2 linked regions of the Homo sapiens genome follow. The protein of the gene in region 1 interacts with the protein of each later gene in a pairwise test. Each region holds a gene or a part of one and is shown on either strand. Other genes may lie near its edges.

Region 1 (3,552 bases):
TTGGCCAGGCTGCTGAGGCGGGAGGGAGGTGGGCGCCAAGGTCGGGGTGTGGGGGTACTCACCCCTGTTCCCCTGCCCCGGCTCAGGGCTCTTCATGGTCATGTTCTCCATCATCTCCATGGACTTCTTCCAGCTGGAGGCCGCCCAAGCTGGCTACCTCATGTCCTTCTTCGGGCTCCTCCAGATGGTGAGTGGGCACACAGGGCCTGCTGGGGGGCACGGCAGGGGTCTCCAGTGGGGCAGGCCTCTGAGAGTAGAGGCTCCTCCCCGGCGGAGGCTGGGGAGCCCTTGGCCTCCCATCTGGCACATGTCAGGGTCCACAGGGAACCAGGCATACAGGCCAGGGAGGGAGAGCCAACTGCAGTGGTGGGCACGCTGTGAGGACAGTGGACTCCGGCCTCTGATGGGCAGCTGGCTGGGATCTGTGGCAGCCCACCTGCCCACCAGCTGTGTGACCAGAGCAAGTCTCCCAAACTCTCCAAATCTGTCCCATGAGGCCAAAGTGCCCGCCTTGCAGGGTCCTTGGCAGATGAGATGACCTAACGTGGCAAAGTGGTTAGACCAGCGTGGGCCCCTTTGGAGGTCCCATAGGAGCAAGACGCCAGCCCTCAGAGGCCACGCTGTCATGGTAGGATAAGACGCCAGCCCTCAGAGGCCACACTGTCATGGAAGGATGCCCTGAAACCCTGGCAGCTCCGATGCGGCAGGTGTCTGTCTGCCAGCCCCCCAGAACCGCTCAGCTCCCGGGCCGGGGCGAGACACCTCCACCACCAGCTCCTCTGGGCTTCTGGACCAGACCCTGGGTGGTGGGGACAGGTGATGATTTGCCACCACCCAGGATGGCTGCCTGACAGCCAGAGTGCGGGGCGGGGGGGCTATTCTGGGACCCGCCAGGGTGGGGGTGGGGGCTCTCGGCCTCTCCGGAAGCCTGTGGCATTCCTGGCACCTCCAAGCCATCTGCTCTTCAGCCTCTGGGCCCAGGACTAGACTAGTGCTAAAATAGCTGCTCCTGGGAGGGGCTGGACCCCCACCGTGGGCAGAGAGGGCCTCTGCTTTTTGGGGCAGGAGGGGCCACCCTGGCAGGGTAAAAAGAGATAAACAGAAAAACAACAGCAACAATAATAGTAACAATCCGGGGTTGTTGCCATGGGGCCTGTTCTGAACAGGCTGCGCCCAGCTCACTGCGAGGAAGGACGCTTAGCCAGGCCCTGGCTGAAGCCTGCAGCTGGGCTGGACACAGCAGTCATTGGCCTGTGTTGTGGGGGACTTGGGCCTGCCATGGCTGCAGTGGGGACCCTGCCTGAGACAGACAGAGCTGGGGTGGTGACCAACACCGTCGGGGCACCCTCGCAGGAACTGGGCCTGGTGAACTGCCCAGGGACGGGGAAGGAGCAGGGTGAGGCATGGGGACCCCGACACAGGTTGAGCAGCGGGAGAGGAGGCTGAGGAGGGGAAGGAGGGGGCCCGCAGAGTAGCCCCCAGACCCCAAGTCCGGTCAGGGACAAGCTTGTTAGCTCCAGGTTCATGTCACAACCTGCAGGGCTCCTAAGTTCAAGCTTTTTTAAACTTAATGGGCAAACTGAGACGCAACACAAATAGGCTTCTGACCTTGGTGTCTGAGTCCTGGATCTGAAGTCCTTCACGGCACTCACTGTGAGCCCCTCTTAGACGCACTGCACGAAGTGAGCTTGCCAGCTCTTCCTTTAAGAAACGTGTTAGGCCGGGCGCGGTGGCTCACGCCTGTAATCCCAGCACTTTGGGAGACCGAGGCGGGCGGATCCCAAGGTCAGGAGATTGAGACCATCCTGGCGAACATGGTGAAACCCCGTCTCTACCAAAAATACAAAAAAAAAAAAAAAAATTAGCCGGGCCTGGTGGCAGGCACCTGTAGTCCCAGCTACTCGGGAGGCTGACGCAGGAGAATGGCGTGAACCCGGGAGGCGGAGCTTGCAGTGAGCCGAGATCGCGCCACTGCAGTCCACGCTGGGCGACAGAGCGAGACGCCATCTCAAAAAAAAAAAAAAAAAAGGTGTTAAAATCCCAAAAAACCCTAAGATAAAGCAAGTGTGAAAGTAAGATTTTTAAACCATTTATGGTTCCGGTTGGAAGCAGTTTCTGTTCTGCCTGGCAGGAATTTGGGAGGGTGACTGGTCCCCTGCAGAGGTGCTGCAGGCTGGGCCTGCCCTGTGGGCAGATACTGAGCCCAGGGGCTCCTCCAGCCGGGGCCACCCCTGCACTCCCAGGCGCGTTGGCCCAGCACGCCCTGCTTAGTGGAGGAGCTGAGATGACCAGATAGAGAGCCTCGCCCTGGCCTGGGAGCAGCCTGCGGCCAAGCCTGTCCCACCGAGCCCATCCCCGGGAGCAGCCTGCGGCCGAGCCTGTCCCACCGAGCCCATCCCCGGGAGCAGCCTGCGGCCGAGCCTGTCCCACCGAGCCCATCCCCGGGAGCAGCCTGCGGCCGAGCCTGTCCCACCGAGCCCATCCCCGGGAGCAGCCTGCGGCCGAGCCTGTCCCACCGAGCCCATCCCCGGGAGCAGCCTGCGGCCGAGCCTGTCCCACCGAGCCCATCCCCGGGAGCAGCCTGCGGCCGAGCCTGTCCCACCGAGCCCATCCCCGGTGTCCCTGGTGTGGGCCTTTCCTTCCTCCCTTGTGGAGAGGAGCCCCGACTCCTCAGGGATCTCAGACCCATCCTGACGCAGTCACTGCTGGCGGAGTAGGGAGAGACCCCGGGGCTTGCAGATGCTGAGGGGCCTTCTCTGCAGAGGGGCCCTGGCCACCACAGGCCAGTCTGGAGGTCCCCAGCTTTGGGGGCTGGCCACAGTCCAGACGCCCCTCCCTCGCCTCCCCCATACCCACTTCTACCCTCTCTGTCTGGCTCTAGGTGACCCAGGGCCTGGTCATCGGGCAGCTGAGCAGCCACTTCTCGGAGGAGGTGCTGCTCCGGGCCAGCGTGCTGGTCTTCATCGTGGTGGGCCTGGCCATGGTGAGGGCTCCCCGCTTTGGGCCCACTCACCTGACCCTCTCACTGGGCAAGGCCACCTGGGCGGTACCATCTGTGCTTAAGCCCTTGGGGACTCCTCCAGCCCCCCACACCCACCCGGGGCCAGCTCTTCAGCAGGGACAGCAGTCAGGGTGGGGAGGGACAGGTAAGACCCCAGAGAGGAGCCTGGTCCCGTGAGGCCCCCACTCAGCTCGGCCCCCGCCTGCCGTCCCAGGCCTGGATGTCCAGCGTCTTCCACTTCTGCCTCCTGGTGCCCGGCCTGGTGTTCAGCCTCTGCACCCTCAACGTGGTCACCGACAGCATGCTGATCAAGGCTGTCTCCACCTCGGACACAGGTGAGTGTGGCCAGCGAGTGGAGCAGCCTCCTCCAGGAAGCCCTAGGAGCTACCCGGTGGGGATGGGGTGGGCAGCCTAGGGTCTGTGTGGGGTGGGTAGGGTGGGGGGCCTGGGGTCTGTGTGGGTTGAGTGGAGTGGGTGGGGTGGGGGCTTGGGGTCTGTGTGGGATGAGTAAGGTGGGGAGCCTGGGTCTTGCATGAGACTCCTGCCCTACC
Region 2 (3,818 bases), on another chromosome or scaffold:
GTGAAATCTTGGCTCGCTGCAACCTCTGCCTCCCAGGTTCCAGTGATTCTCCTGCCTCAGCTTCCTGAGTAGCTGGGATTACAGGCATGCGCCACCATGCCAAGCTAATTTTTGTGTTTTTAGTAGAGACAGGGTTTCACTAGGTTGGCCAGGCTGGTCTTGAACTCCTGACCTCAGGTGATCCACCCACCTTGCCCTCCCAAAGTGCTGGGATTACAGGCATGAGCCACTGCACCCTGCCAGAGTTTTAAAAAGTTGGTTGCAATTTTTTTGTGTGTGTACAACTTATTAATCTCACAAGATTTCAAACACAAAATGGCTCTGATGACTTCTTCACGTGCTTTAGAGCATTTTATGTCCCCAAACATCACTGTGCATTTGTAAACCTCAGTGAGTCAGAGCAGCCGTGGCCTTATTTTTTGTTGTTGCTATTTAGTTGAAGTTAATACTAACCATAAAATGGATTCAGCAAGTCTCTAAAGTTTGCTATAATTATCTTTCATTGAAATTTCCTTTTAAAATTCAAGAAATTCTGTCAGTGTCTGAGTATTTATTTGAGAATGGTCATATTTGATTTGAAATTCCCTTTGAACCAAATTGTTTTGCAGGCATCTACTTTTATGATTCAGACTGTGAATTTAATAAGACTCTAGTTGTTTTTTTTTGTACTTTACAGTGATGTATCGGGTTCATACATGTCAAAGTTCTTTTCACCCAAAAAGCAAGAATTATTTCTCCACATATTTTCAAAAAATAAGCAGTATGATTATTTTGTCTTAAGACTAGCACAAAAATATTGTTCAAATGCATTATACTAGAGATACCATTACTTTAAAAAATCTTTTCTAACATATGAAGATAGATGGAATGGTAGGAAAGAGAAGGGGGTACATACGTTCTCTGATTAAATGTTGAACTATTTTCATTTCCTCTTTCCTGTGGTTAGGATAGGTAAAGGCATTTGAATGTTAGGTAGCTGCAAGTCAGAGAAATAGGAAAGGGTACAGAGAGATGGAAGCCAAGATGAAAATGAAATGAAATTGAAGAATATTTTGCATTATCTAGTCTTATCACTGCCATTCTATGACACAGGAAATACCATTTGGGAAACTGAATTTCTATTTGAAAAAGGAGTCTGGGATTATATAAAATTCATTTAGGTATTCAGTGGTGTTTTCTCTTTTTCTCAAGTTTGCTCCTGCTTCTCACTCCAGCTTTTTTTACAAAGGACTTAAGCTGTAAGGTGGAGAGTGCAAAGTAGGACAAGGAGGCTGTATTTTGAGTAAAATATGTATAAATGTCTTAAAATTCAGCTTCCAGTTTGAAACATACAGGTAAACACACATAATTCTTTCTAGTGATCAGGAAAGAGTCTCTAAACATGAGTTGAGAGTGGTCTGAGCCATCTAGTATAAAAAGAAATGGAGGAGAAAAAATCACTGGAAATGCCCATTTGAGAGACAACAGTTTAGTTAAAAGTGAGAAATTGTTGTACTGAATTGTTACTTTTTCTGAAAACGTGTATACTTACAGGTGCTACATCTTATAATGTAAAAAAATTTTCTTAATTACTTATATTCACTTTCTTACCTATCACATTGAAAGTCTTATTGTGTTGAAATACTACTAATTTTTAAATGTTTCTCTAAAATTTAGCTGAGTTATATAATTTCTGTTGGCAATATTTACACTACTTGTGATTAGTAACTTAAAATTGCTATTCTAAAATAGTCATTAATCATTTCCTTAGAGTGCTATCCCTTTATATGCACAAACATTTCTTTTCCACCCTCTTTGAAAAAAAATTGAAATATTTTATCTTGGGTAATATCTTGGAATTTCTTTTTAGATACTAAGGAATCTAAATTTTCCTTTGCTAGGAATCTGATTTTAAATAATAAAATATAAAATTTTTATTAACAGAAGTTTCTGAAACTATAGTATAGACTTTTAATACAGAATAGTGTATGAGTGAGGGCAGGGTATTTGTTTTTCCTCCTCATTACAGAGGGAGATATTTGATTGGACCAAGTAATATTTAACTTTTCTGTACTGAATCATACACCATTTCCATCAGCTGAGGGCTTAGAATGCTTTCCATTTACCACATAACATCTCAAAAGAGAAGTGAATCTGAGGCCTGAGTGTCAGAAATAAAAAGTTAGGTTTTTCAAAAGGGAGCTTTCTGACTATGGTTACCAAACAGTAAAACAAGTTTGTAAGAGAGATTATATATTTTTAAATTTTATATAATTTTTGAATAGCAATAGAGAGTGGGCTGTATGACCATTTAAATGGAGTATTTTATTTTATATCAAGGAATTTAATTTTTTTTTTTTTTTGAGACAGAGTGTCGCTCTGTTGCCCAGGCTGGAGTACAGTGGTGCAATCTCCACTCACTGAAACCTTTGCCTCCCAGGTTCAAGTGATTCTTGTGCCTCAGCCTCCCGAGTAGCTGGGATTACAGGTGTGTACCACCATACCCAGCTAATTTTTGTATTTTTGGTAGAGATGGAATTTCACCATGTTGACCAGGCTGGTCTCAAACTCCTGACCTCAGGTGACCCGCCCACCTTGGCCTCCCAAAGTGCTGGGATTACAGGTGTGAGCCACCATGCCCGGCCAAGGAATTTACATTTTTATCCTGTGCTCAAGGTGTGCTTGGCATGAAAATTATAGACTTGTAAACCAGATAAATTGGATTAATTATTCACATTTCAAAATGATTCTTAGGTATTATAAATGATACTTGGTCAATGCCTTTAAATTGGTGAGAATCTTTGCTTATTTAAAATATGGCTTGATTTAGCATGATACATCTATTTTGTAACACACTATTAGGTCAAGTATATTGGTTTCTAAAGTTACAATGAAATTTTCTGATACCAAACCTAATATTAGTTGATATATTTTACTTTTAAAGATTTGGGATCATATTGTAGAGAAAAATTTATTGCACACCAGTAATTTTTAGAGAGAAAACTTTGCTGTACCTCTCATTTTTTATCCTAATGAAGTTTCATTACTTGTGAACTTCTCAATAAAGATGTGAGAAATCTGAAATTGTTGGGTAAAAAAACTTTATTGTATGGATGAATACACAGTATCCTAAGTATAGTTCTCTAAGTAACATAGAGCTTGGGAATTAGTCACATCATTAAATTTATTAACAAGATATATTCATAGAAACTTATGGTTTTTATGTTAAACTTATTCCTTCTATACAAGAAAACTTGACCTGGATCTTGAGAACATTGTGCTTTCACTTGGGTATTTCTTTTAAAAACAAATTTTCCGTATACATTTATGGTCCTCAATTTTTCTATTTAGAAATGTTTTCATAATAATGATAAAGAGGGACTAATAATAGCTACCCTTGTTTTCTTACAAATTTGTTACAAGAATCAAGTGCAATAGTGCATGTCAACGTACTTTAAAAACTGAAGCCTCCCAAGATAATAAATCTTCATATCATGATCCATTCGAATTGTTTTAAGGATATGGAGTTTGTTAAAGCCAGTAGATCTGGAAGTCATTCCCAGCTGATTGGAGCAGGAAACTTATCCTGCATTGATGCTGTTGGGGCTGGAGCTTGGAGCCAAGGGTAGTGGCCTTGCCAGTTGCCATCTGGCTGCACAAAAGTCTGTCAGCTGCATCATCATGTATGCATTTATCTGTCTTAGAACTTTTAACCAATAAGTGATTCACCAGTTCTCTAGCAGGAAATTGTAGGCCTTGGTATCTTCCTCCTTCTTTATTCCAAAGTAAAGCTGTGGCCTTTGGATTTCTAAATGGCAAGAAATGGCAATTTTGCATTA

What was found.
Region 2: the proteins of SLC67A1 (region 1) and TLCD4 interact in binary tests that used the Homo sapiens proteins (3 or more experiments, as listed by UniProt).

The regions. Positions count from the first base shown.
Region 1 is NC_000011.10:2,919,221-2,922,772, forward strand, and holds part of SLC67A1 (solute carrier family 67 member A1), read left to right. Parts: intron 1-86; coding exon 87-187; intron 188-496; coding exon of another isoform or gene 497-538; exon of another isoform or gene 539-2,570; intron 2,571-2,881; coding exon 2,882-2,983; intron 2,984-3,215; coding exon 3,216-3,336; intron 3,337-3,552. UniProt on the Homo sapiens protein: May act as a transporter of organic cations based on a proton efflux antiport mechanism. May play a role in the transport of chloroquine and quinidine-related compounds in kidney. Plays a role in the regulation of lipid metabolism.
Region 2 is NC_000001.11:95,144,750-95,148,567, forward strand, and holds part of TLCD4 (TLC domain-containing protein 4), read left to right. Parts: intron 1-3,818.